2 separate regions of the Homo sapiens genome follow, and region 2 is linked to region 1. Evidence: fine-mapped expression QTL. A gene starts in region 1. The other region holds a variant in brackets. All regions are shown on one strand. Distances are between the middles of the regions. Region 1 holds the start of PSEN2 (presenilin 2). Region 2 overlaps PSEN2 (presenilin 2).

The links. PIP is the estimated chance that this variant, and not a neighbour inherited with it, causes the effect. A credible set is the group of variants that fine-mapping cannot tell apart.
Region 2: its variant is the best candidate, but not a certain one, in a credible set for the expression of PSEN2 in visceral fat (GTEx, PIP 0.73).

What each region holds. Positions count from the first base shown.
Region 1 is chr1:226,867,586-226,872,964 of GRCh38, forward strand. It overlaps PSEN2 (presenilin 2), which reads left to right and starts at 3,031. Exons shown (of 13, transcript NM_000447.3): 1 at 3,031-3,064; 2 at 3,677-3,819. It overlaps LOC105373119 (a long non-coding RNA gene), which reads right to left and starts at 2,965. Exons shown (of 3, transcript XR_949226.4): 1 at 2,777-2,965. RefSeq lists silencers at 2,834-3,433, 3,444-3,493.
Region 2 is chr1:226,895,503-226,900,846 of GRCh38, forward strand. It overlaps PSEN2 (presenilin 2), which reads left to right. Exons shown (of 13, transcript NM_000447.3): 13 at 1-596. The coding sequence ends at 77. Among named protein-coding and RNA genes, the nearest start is that of PSEN2, 28 kb to the left of the region's middle. RefSeq lists a silencer at 392-623. The variant A/G (reference allele first, on the strand shown) is at 2,535.

The sequences.
Region 1 (5,379 bases):
AGTCAGGGGTCCCCAGCCACCAGTCATTTCATTAGCATACCAACAACATTCATCACACCTGAGATTCCAAAGGTTTTAGAAGCTTGTGCCAGGAACGGGGATAAAGACCAAATATTTATTTTTATTATATCACAACTTCCTAACTCATTTATTGAGTCATTATGCTTCACCTTAGGGCATATGCAGCCTCTTCACATTAGGGGAAATTCAGCCTATCAAGTGCAACACTGAAAGCTAAATAACAACAACACAACAACAACCAATCAGGGATGGGCGCGGTGGCTCATGCCTGTAATCTAATCCCAGCACTTCAGGAGACCGAAGCGGGAGGGTCACTTCAGGTCAGGAATTCGAGACCACCCTGGTCAACATGGCAAAAACCCCCTCTCTACTAAAATTACAAAAATTAGCTGGGCAGGGTGGCACATACCTGTAATTCCAGCTAACTTGGGAGGCTGAGGCAAGAGAATCACTTGAACTTGGGAGGCAGAGGTTGCAGTGATCTGAGATCGTGCCACTGCACTCCAGCCTGGGCGAAAAAGCAAGACCCTGTTTCAAAACAACAACAACAACAAACCAGGTTGGGGAGTTATTTCCCAGGAATTCTGTAGCAAGGGCTCATATGCATCAGTTAGAGTTGGACTTTGTGACCTTCAGGTGTCCTTCCTTTTCCAAGAATCGATTATTTTTATAATTCTGTTAAATGTAATTAATTTCTCAAATTTATCAAAGATCATTATTTGGACCATTATTTTCTTAGCCAAAATGCTGGCCTGCCCCAGTTCCATCCAGGGTTAATCTGCATTTAAACAGCTCTTTGAAAATATTTGGTTTTCCCCATCCATCTATGGCCAATTGATTTTTGACAAGAAGCCAAGACAATTCAATAGGAAAAGGACAATCTCTTCAACGAATGGTGCTGGGACAACTAGAAGTCCACATGCAAAACAATGAACTTGGACCCTAACCTCACACTACATACAAAAATTATCTTAAAATGGATCAACAACCTAAATATAGGAGCTAAAACTATAAAACTCTTAGAAGAAAACACAGGAGTAAATCTTCACAACCTTGGATTTGACAATGATATCTCACACAGGACACCAAATGCACAAACAACAAAAGAAAAAACAGTTAAGCTGAAGTTCATCAAAATTAAAGTTTTATGTGCATGAAAGGACATCAGAAAGTGAAAAAGACAATTACAGAATGGGAGAGAAATATTTGCAAAGCATATATCTGATAAGGGTCTAGTGTCCAGAATATATAAAGAACTCTTACAACCCAACAACAAAAAGACAACCCAATTTTAAAATGGGCAAAGGACTTGAATAGGCATGTCTCCAAAGAAGATATACAGATGGCCAACAAACACATGAAAAGGAGAATGCTTAATAGCATTAGTTATTAGGAAAATGTAAACCAAAACCAGAATGAGGTACCGCTGCACACCTACTAGGATAACAATAAAATGGAAAATAACAAGTGTTGGTGAGGATGTGGAGAAATTGGGATCCTGTACATTGCTGGTAGGAATATAAAATGGTTCAGCCATCGTGGAAACCACTTGGGGTTCCCCAAATAGTTAAACACTGAAGGCTGGGCACGGTGGCTCATGCCTATAATCCAGCACTGTGGGAGGCCAAGGCAGGCAGATAACTTGAGTTCAGGATCAAGACCAGCCTGGCCAACATGGGGAAACCCCATCTCTACTAAAAATACAAAAATTAGCCAGATGTGGTGGCACACACCTGTAACTCCAGCTACTCAGGAGGCCGAGGCAAGATAATTGCTCGAACCTGGGAGGCAGAGGTTGCAGTGAGCCAAGATTGCGGCCACTGCACTCTAGGCTGGGCAACAGAGCAAGGCTCTGTCTCAAAAAAAAAAAAAAATTGAATTACCATGCGATCCAACAATTCAACCCCTATGTATGTACCCTCCCCAAATAAAAATGGGCTCTCAAACAAATACATGTACATGCATGTTCATGGTAGCATTATTCACAAAGCCAAAAGATGCAAACAGCCCCAATGTCCATAGATGAATAAACTGTGGCATACATGATACACACACACACACGCACACACATATACATATACACACACAAACACTATTCAGTCATAAAAAGGAATAAAGTCTGTTACATGCTACCTGAGGATGAACCTCGAAAACATGCTAAGTGAAAGACACAAAAGTCCACACACTGTGATTCCGTTTATATGAAGTATCTAAAGTAAGTAAATATAGAGACAGAAGTAGACTGGTAATTGCCAGGGGCTGGGGGGGAAGAGGGCATTGGGAAGAAACTTCTCAATGGGTATGGGGTTTTTCTTTCGGAATGAGGAAAATGTTTTGGAACTAGACAGAGGTGGTGGTTGCACAGCATTGTGAATTCACTAAATGCCACTGAAATGCCCACTTTAAAATGGTAAATTTTATGTTATGTGAATTTCACCTTAAGTTAAAAAAAAAAAAGTAAAACTACTCAGACAACGCCAAATTATTGACAATCTCAACCTACCCCACAGACCCCAAATCCTGGAACCACAACCCCCTAGGCCAATTCTCAGGTCAGGCAGCAATTTATTCCTGTTCAATTTTATGCAGAGCTCCTGGTGGCTCTGAAGCGCCCTAGGGAACAGACCAGGAACATTCTCATGGTGTTAGCTCACATTGGGCCATTAGTGCTCCTTTAATGTGAGAACAACCGGGAGGAGGAGGGGATGTGGACCCAAAACTACAAGAAAGAGTGTCCTCGAAGCCTATGTCCTACCGCCCCACGCTGCTGCCAGGCCCGCAGGAAGATGACAGGCCCGGCCTCCACTCCTTCTAAGGTCGTCGCTTAGTTCCGACGTCGGGATGACCCTGTCATCCACGCGGCGTGAAGGCCACCCTCCCCGCGCGCCCGGGACTCCAGGTGGGGCCCCAGTGGACGAGGGAACGCGGCGTCGCCCACCGGGCGTGGCCTGGGCGGGCGTGGGGCGGGGCCTGGGCCGGCGCCGGGTCCGGCCGGGCGCTCAGCCAGCTGCGTAAACTCCGCTGGAGCGCGGCGGCAGAGCAGGTGAGCGGGCGGTGCCGGGGGGTGCCCAGGCCAGGGCCCTGTCGCCTGCGGCGCTGAGGGCCCGGGGTGGGGCTGCGCCCTGAGGGCCCTGCCCTGCCCTCCGCACGCCTCTGGCCACGGTCCCTTCCCCGGCTGTGGGTCTGCGGCCCCTGCGTGCGCAGCGCTCCTGGCCTCTGCGGCCAGCGCGGGGGCGGAGAGAGGAGAGTGCCCGGCAGGCGGCGGCTGGGCCGGCCCGGAACTGGGTCGTGGAAGGATCGCGGGGAGCGGCCCTCAGGCCTTCGGCCTCACTGCGTCCCCACTTCCCTGCGCCCGCCTGCCGCCGAGCCCCGGCTGGGGGTGGGCGCGGCGCGAGCGGTTAAAGGGCCGGTGCATTTAAAGGAGCGGTGCACGTGGGTCTCTGAGGCGTGTAGCAGGCGGGGGCGTTTTGTTCTTCTTCTCTCTCGCCGGAGACCTCCGTTGCGCCGAGTCCATTCGGCCTCTAGCACCGGGTCCTGGGCATGCTTTCCCCGGGAAGGAGGCGCGCGGGGGCTCTGCCCGCACGTGAGGGGCAGGGCCGCAGGCTCAAGCCTAGAGCCGGTTTCTGTTAGCAGCGGTGTTTGGCTGTTTTATCAGGCATTTCCAGCAGTGAGGAGACAGCCAGAAGCAAGCTTTTGGAGCTGAAGGAACCTGAGACAGAAGCTAGTCCCCCCTCTGAATTTTACTGATGAAGAAACTGAGGCCACAGAGCTAAAGTGACTTTTCCCAAGGTCGCCCAGGTACGATATAGCAGAGCCAGGCTTCGACCCCAGTGTCCTGGCTTCTAGATCTGCTGTCCATCCCTCCGAGCAGACCTCACCCCTGTTTATTGCCTTAATAAGTATTCCCTTTGAAAGGTATGAACGGTGTTGAGTGAAGTAACTGCATCCCTATTTACAAATGGAGAACCTGAGAGCATTCCATAGAGACGATTGTAGACTAACTTAACTCAGAAGCGACAGCCTGGGGTTGCCAAGGCTGTCTACGAAGTAACTTGATTAGGACCGACCCCAGCTTCCAGTAAGGAAGCCTCTGATGCCTCTGTAGCCAATTCTGCAGACACCTGAGCCTCCAAGGCCTTCAGCCAAGACCTTTGGCGGTAATTGGAGTCTCGGGATAAGCTGCTTCAGGTGTGTGAGCCTCAGGTTCTTCTCTCCTGAATGTGGTTGTGGGCAGCCGGTGACTGGCGCAGGTGCAGAAGGGGCCTGGTTCTTGGCCCCACCTCAGAGCTGCGTCCTCACGACGCCCACGTTGAGCCTTGGGTTCCAGGGCAGAGACTGGAGTGAGGGCTTGGGGGCATGTTGCTTTGAAGTGGGATGGATGTATCAGGTTTTTGGGGAAAACTCTGTACCCTTTGGTGTTGAAGTGCCCATGTGCCAAGTCTTGAGTCCAGCATGTTCACATGTGGGGAGTGAGTGGCTTGTTCCTGTCTATTTGAAAGAGCAGCAAGGAGGAGGAGGAGCAAGGGCTAGGGGCTGCTGCTGGGGTGCCTGGAGCTGTGGTGCATAATGTCACACCTGTCTCCCCTCCGTAGCTGCTCACCGTCCCCCCAAGGGGGGTTTGCCTCTTGCCTACTTTGGCCTTTCTCTGTTATCGATGTTAATAATGACATATATCTCGCTTATGAGTTGGTCATAATAAAAAGCTATCTTGTACAGAATATTAGAATTTAAGATCTTAAGAATTTCAATGACACTGAAATAGTTTATTATTACCTTTTTACAGAAGAGGAAACAAGTTCAGGGAGTTAAGCAGCTAGTCCAGTTATGTGGCTTCAGTGCTTTAAGCACCAGGATTTGAACATAGCTGGCTACACTGTCTTTATCTCTTGAGTTTTTGCGCAGGAGGTTCCTGTATTCAACTCCTACCCGTGTCTCTCCACTACTGCTGGGAAAGTTTTGTGGAGTCCCCATGAGCAACTTCCTGACAAACAAACAAAATTTTTTTAAAGAAACCAAAGCAGTGTGTGTAGGTCACATGCAGTGTGTCTAATGAAAACATCTCTGGCGGGTTTTCAGCTGTTGCTTTGACTTTCGGACACTGTTTAGTTGGGGACTGATAAGACAGCAAATATTTCTGCAAGTATTCCCACCTGTTCTATTCCCAGCTGCCACAGCTGCGGAAAGGCGGGGGTGAGGCTGAGAGGCCCCGAGAGGAACATTTTCCACTGGGCTCCAATCCTGGAGATGGGATGACCATCATGTTAATGTCTGGAGAAAAGAATGATTTCAGGCTGGGTGCTGTGGCTCATGTCTGTAATCCCAGCACTTTGGGAGGCCGAGGTGGGTGGATCACCTGAG
Region 2 (5,344 bases), 28 kb after region 1:
TCATCTTTTACTTCTCCACGGACAACCTGGTGCGGCCGTTCATGGACACCCTGGCCTCCCATCAGCTCTACATCTGAGGGACATGGTGTGCCACAGGCTGCAAGCTGCAGGGAATTTTCATTGGATGCAGTTGTATAGTTTTACACTCTAGTGCCATATATTTTTAAGACTTTTCTTTCCTTAAAAAATAAAGTACGTGTTTACTTGGTGAGGAGGAGGCAGAACCAGCTCTTTGGTGCCAGCTGTTTCATCACCAGACTTTGGCTCCCGCTTTGGGGAGCGCCTCGCTTCACGGACAGGAAGCACAGCAGGTTTATCCAGATGAACTGAGAAGGTCAGATTAGGGCGGGGAGAAGAGCATCCGGCATGAGGGCTGAGATGCGCAAAGAGTGTGCTCGGGAGTGGCCCCTGGCACCTGGGTGCTCTGGCTGGAGAGGAAAAGCCAGTTCCCTACGAGGAGTGTTCCCAATGCTTTGTCCATGATGTCCTTGTTATTTTATTGCCTTTAGAAACTGAGTCCTGTTCTTGTTACGGCAGTCACACTGCTGGGAAGTGGCTTAATAGTAATATCAATAAATAGATGAGTCCTGTTAGAATCTTGGAGTTTGGTCCGTTGTAAATGTTGACCCCTCTCCCTGCATCTTGGGCACCCCTGGGATAACTTGTGCTGTGAGCCCAGGATGGAGGCAGTTTGCCCTGTTTGAAGGAACTTTTAATGATCTCGCCTCTCTGCACACATTTCTTTAACTAGAAAGTTTCCTAAGCAAAGGAGTTAGGAGAGCAGGGTGGCCTGACATCTGCCAGCCCTGAGCTGTAAGGCTGTGGATGCTGAGCAGGTCCCTGGACTCAGTTGTGCACGGTGGCACAGACACTGCCAGGTGGTTGCCAAAACATCCAGTGGTTCCTTCAGCAAGTGTTCACCCTCTGCAGAAGCCTGTGAGGGCCTGAGCTCAGAAACCACTCTCCTTTCCTTCTCTGGCTTTGGCCCTGGGCACTGTGGTGGGAGAGTGGACAGTTTGGCTTTGCCTTCTCTGTACATCAATCATGGGTTGCAAAGAGAATCTCAGAAGTGCCTCTTCCTGAGCACAGTGGCTCACACCTGTAATCCCAATACTTCGGGAGGTCGAGTCGGAAGGATCACTTGAGCCCAGGAGTTTGAGACCAGCCGGGGCAACATAGTGAGACTTTGTACAAAAAAAAATTTAAAAATTAGCCAAGCATGGTGGCATGCATCTGTAGTCTCAGCTACTCTGGAGGCTGAGGTGGGAGGATCACTTAAGCCCAGGAGGCTGAGGCTGCAATGAGCCGAGATCAAGCAGGTGTTAGGTATATCAGACAGCTGAGAAGACGCAAGTGTGCCCTGGGGTTCAAACTGGTACCCCTGTCTCCCTGTTCCAGGAATAACATGAGTGCCGGGACAATGCATCTTTATTATGAGAGGAATGAGAATTGTGTATCTTGACATTTGACAGGAGCTTGCTTTCCCCCAGGCTGTTTGAGGAAGGGCAGAGGAAAATGTGGTGCCCTAAGAAGGAAGGACAGAGGAGGCCGAACACTGGCGGGTGGAATCCCACTGATTAGTAGTGCAGGTCAGAGACCTGGGATGGGGGGCATTGCCGTCATGGAAGCCACAGCGGGGAGCGGGTAAAGCAGACAGGGATGGTCCCTGATGGTGACAACTCGCAAGAGGTTAAGGGGAAAGAAAAACTGAAAAGCTTATTCAATTTGGCAATTATGGCAGTGTTTATCTTCAGAAGAGCAGTTTTAGGGTGGGGTTTCCAAAGATGGGATTGGACATATATTTTGAATCATTAAGCTTGAGGTCTTTCAAAGGCCTGGCCAAGGGTTGCTGGGTGGAGACCACATTCAGAGGTAAAGGCAGAAATTGGGGGCCCTTAAGTAGACAGCGAGGGAGGAAGAAATGAAGGGGCCTGGTGATGGTTAGGGTGAAGTGTTAAGACTGAGAAAACAAGGACATGTGAGAAGACGAGGGAAGAGCATTGGAGAGAACAAAGACACTGGAGGAGATGCTACTTGGAGGTCCCCAGAGAGCAGGGAGACAAATGAACCCAGAACACAAATGGCAAAGAAGAAAAATGAGAGAATTTGTAAAAGACAGCATTCGAACATGCCGAACAAGAGCAGGGTACTGGTGTTCAAACACCTGTATCTCCCCCGTGTAACCCGTCAACTAATATCTTTCCATATTTGCTCCAGATTTGTCTTTAGAAATAAAACCCACGTTCTGAAGTCCTGTTTGTATGTGGCCCCAGTCCTGTTGCCTCCGCCTCCTGTCCTGAAGTCGATTTCTGCCCTTCTCATCTATGGTTAGTTTTGTTTTGTATGTTGGCATGTTTTCTTAACTTTACAGAAATGGTATCATACTGTACATATTTGATAATTTTTTAAAATATTGCATTCTGGAGGCATGTATAAATGTAGCTCCAGTTCATTTATTTTATTTATTTTTTGAGATGGAGTTTTGCTCTTGTCACCCAGGCTAGAGTGCAATGGCGTGATGTTGGCTCACTGCA[A/G]CCTCTGCCTCCTGGGTTCAAGCAATTCTCCTGTCTCAATTTCCTGAGTAGCTGGGATTACAGTTGCCCGCCACCATGCCTGGCTAATTTTGTATTTTAGTAGAGACGGGGTTTCACCACGTTAGCCAGGCTGGTCTCAAACTCCTGACTGCAGGTGATCCACGCACCTTGGCCTCCAAAAGTGCTGGGATTACAGGCGTGAGCCACCGTGCCCAGCCCAGTTATTTTAACTATTGTATAGTGTTCCATTGTATGAGTTCTACTGTTTATATGCTATTGATCGACCTGTAGGGGTTTTGCAGTGTTTCTGTATTACAGCTGTGCTGCAGTGAGCATCCCATCACATTGTGTGGATTTGAGGAAGTATTGGAATTCCCCCAATTGACTGGACATTCCCAATTACCCTCCAAGTATGTGTCTGTTTATCCTTCCATCCGCAATCTGAGAGTTCCCCAACTCTATAATACTTGGTGTCATCAGACTTTTCATCTTGTCTGATTGGATGGGTGTCATTTCCTTTAGGTTTTATAATTATCTTTTCATATGTGTATTGGCTGTACAAGGTTCCTTCTCTGTTCATTATTATTAATTTTTTTAGACAGAGTCTCGCGCTGTCGCCCAGGCTGGAGTGCAGCAGCGTGATCTTGGCTCACTGCAAGCTCCGCCTCCCGGGTTCATGCCATTCTCCTGCCTCAGCCTCCTGAGTAGCTGGGATTACAGGTGCCTGCCATCACGCCCGGCTAGTTTTTTTGTATTTTGAGTAGAGATGGGGTTTCACCGTGTTAGCCAGGAGGGTCTCGATCTCCTGACCTCGTGATCCACCCGCCTCGGCCTCCCAAAGTGCTGGGATTACAGGTGTGAGTCACTGCGCCCAGCCCAAGTTTCCTTCTCTGTTACTTGTTCATATCCTCTGCCCATTTTTCACTTGGATTTTTTGTCTTACGGATATTTAAGCCTCTTAAAATATATATTCTGGAGAGATGCTAATCTTTGATTAATTATATGCATTGCAAATGTCTGGTACATTGTGGCTTGCCTCTCTTCCCTGCCTTTAGGAGTGTTTTGCTGGACCCAAGTAATTTTTAAATGTTAATGTTATTAAATCTATCAGTTTTTTGCTTGTATGGCTTATGCCATTGAATCTTGTTTTAAGAGATCCTTCCCTACCCTCAAGGTTTTCTAAATTTTTATTTTCATAATAAGATTTTTAGTTCATCTGAAATGTATTTTTATGATTGTATTTAGTAGGGACCTAATTTTGTTTTTCTTTGTAACCAGGTGTCCCAGCACTGTTTACTGAACAGTCTCTCCTTTCTCGCTGGTCTGTAGAACTCTCCTGACATATACCAAGTTTCCATAAGTGGGTGGATGGGTTCCTGAGCTCTCTACTGTTAATAGAACTTGCTCTCTCGCAGGCCAATGCCTCACCAGGTGATTGAAGCAGAGAAACTTAGGTGGTGAAAGGAGAAGATGGGGCCTGTCCTGAGAGTTTCTGTTCCTGAGATGCTAGAGGCAGAGGGTATGTAAATCTGAAGTTACACTGGATCTCCTAAAACAGTATAAAGCTACAGAAGTATAATAGTGTGGAATGGTGGTGGGAGTCAGTAAGGGTTAGGTCACTGCAGTGGTTTAAACAAGATGGGCTAGAATCCTTTCACAGGCACAGGCAGCTTGGAGAGGGTGCAATAGTGCATGGTATCAGGGGTCAGATGCCTCTTTTTCCTTTGAGATCAGTAAGTGGCTTTCACCTCATGACCTAGGCTGGCTGCTGTGTGCTAGCCGTCAAGTCACACTCCATCCAGCATGAAAGGAGGTTAGAAAAGGGTGCATTTCCTCTTCTTAAAAACATGTCTCAAAGTTGCACACAGCACTTTTGCCTATATTCAATTGGCCATTAGTCCCACGGCCATACCTGTCTGAGACTGAGAGACTGGGAAATGTCTTTATTTCAAGTGGCCATATATCCACCTAAACAAGATAAGGGATACGTGGTTATGGCGTGTCTTTTGGTTTACCAATGCAGATAATGAAGTTACCAAAACAATGAGAAAATGGGGTCGTGAGGGATCATGTGAATCACAAGCTGATGTCTTCAAAGACGGTGGAAATGGGCCCCGGGAGGCAGCAGATGACAGCAGTGGGGATTAAGGTAGACCTCCATCCTGGGGTTAAAATGAGGGGAAGGTGATGGAGCTGGACCAGCAGTCAGAATGGTCAGTGGTTAGGAGACCCTCTGCCCCCCACCGCTGCCACCATTGGCTCTCTACAGAATGCCTGCGAGTGGCTTAGAGTGACCAAGGATGAGGTGCAGATCCATGTGCACCCCCCTGCCCCCTCTGTGGACAATTTTCATGCCTGACAGCACAGTCTATGTGGATTGCAAGCCGATGAAACTATGCAAAGTAGAAGCATGCCTGCAGTTTGTGATTCGGTGATGTGTTTTATGCTTATGTGAGTCGAATGGGGCGGCAGGGTCCTGTGGTCACCCGCTGAGAAGGAAGGGTCCTGTAACCACTGCCTTTCTTTCAGCTACTTGAGAAAGGTGTTGTGAGGGACCGTGGATTTTGGGACAGCTTTGAATGGTGGTAGGGAGGAAGGGTCCGGTCTGAGTGAATGGCCAGAAAGCTGTGGGGAAGCTTTTAGGACATTGGCCAAGAGCTCCCTGAAGGCAGCCAGGGAGATACTTGTCAGTACATGTGACTAATGGCCAACTGAATATAAGCAGAAGTGCTGTGTTGCTGTGTGCAACACTGGACACCTTAGGAAGGACCTCGAGACAGTGGTTGTGGACTCTGTAGAGAGTAACAGTG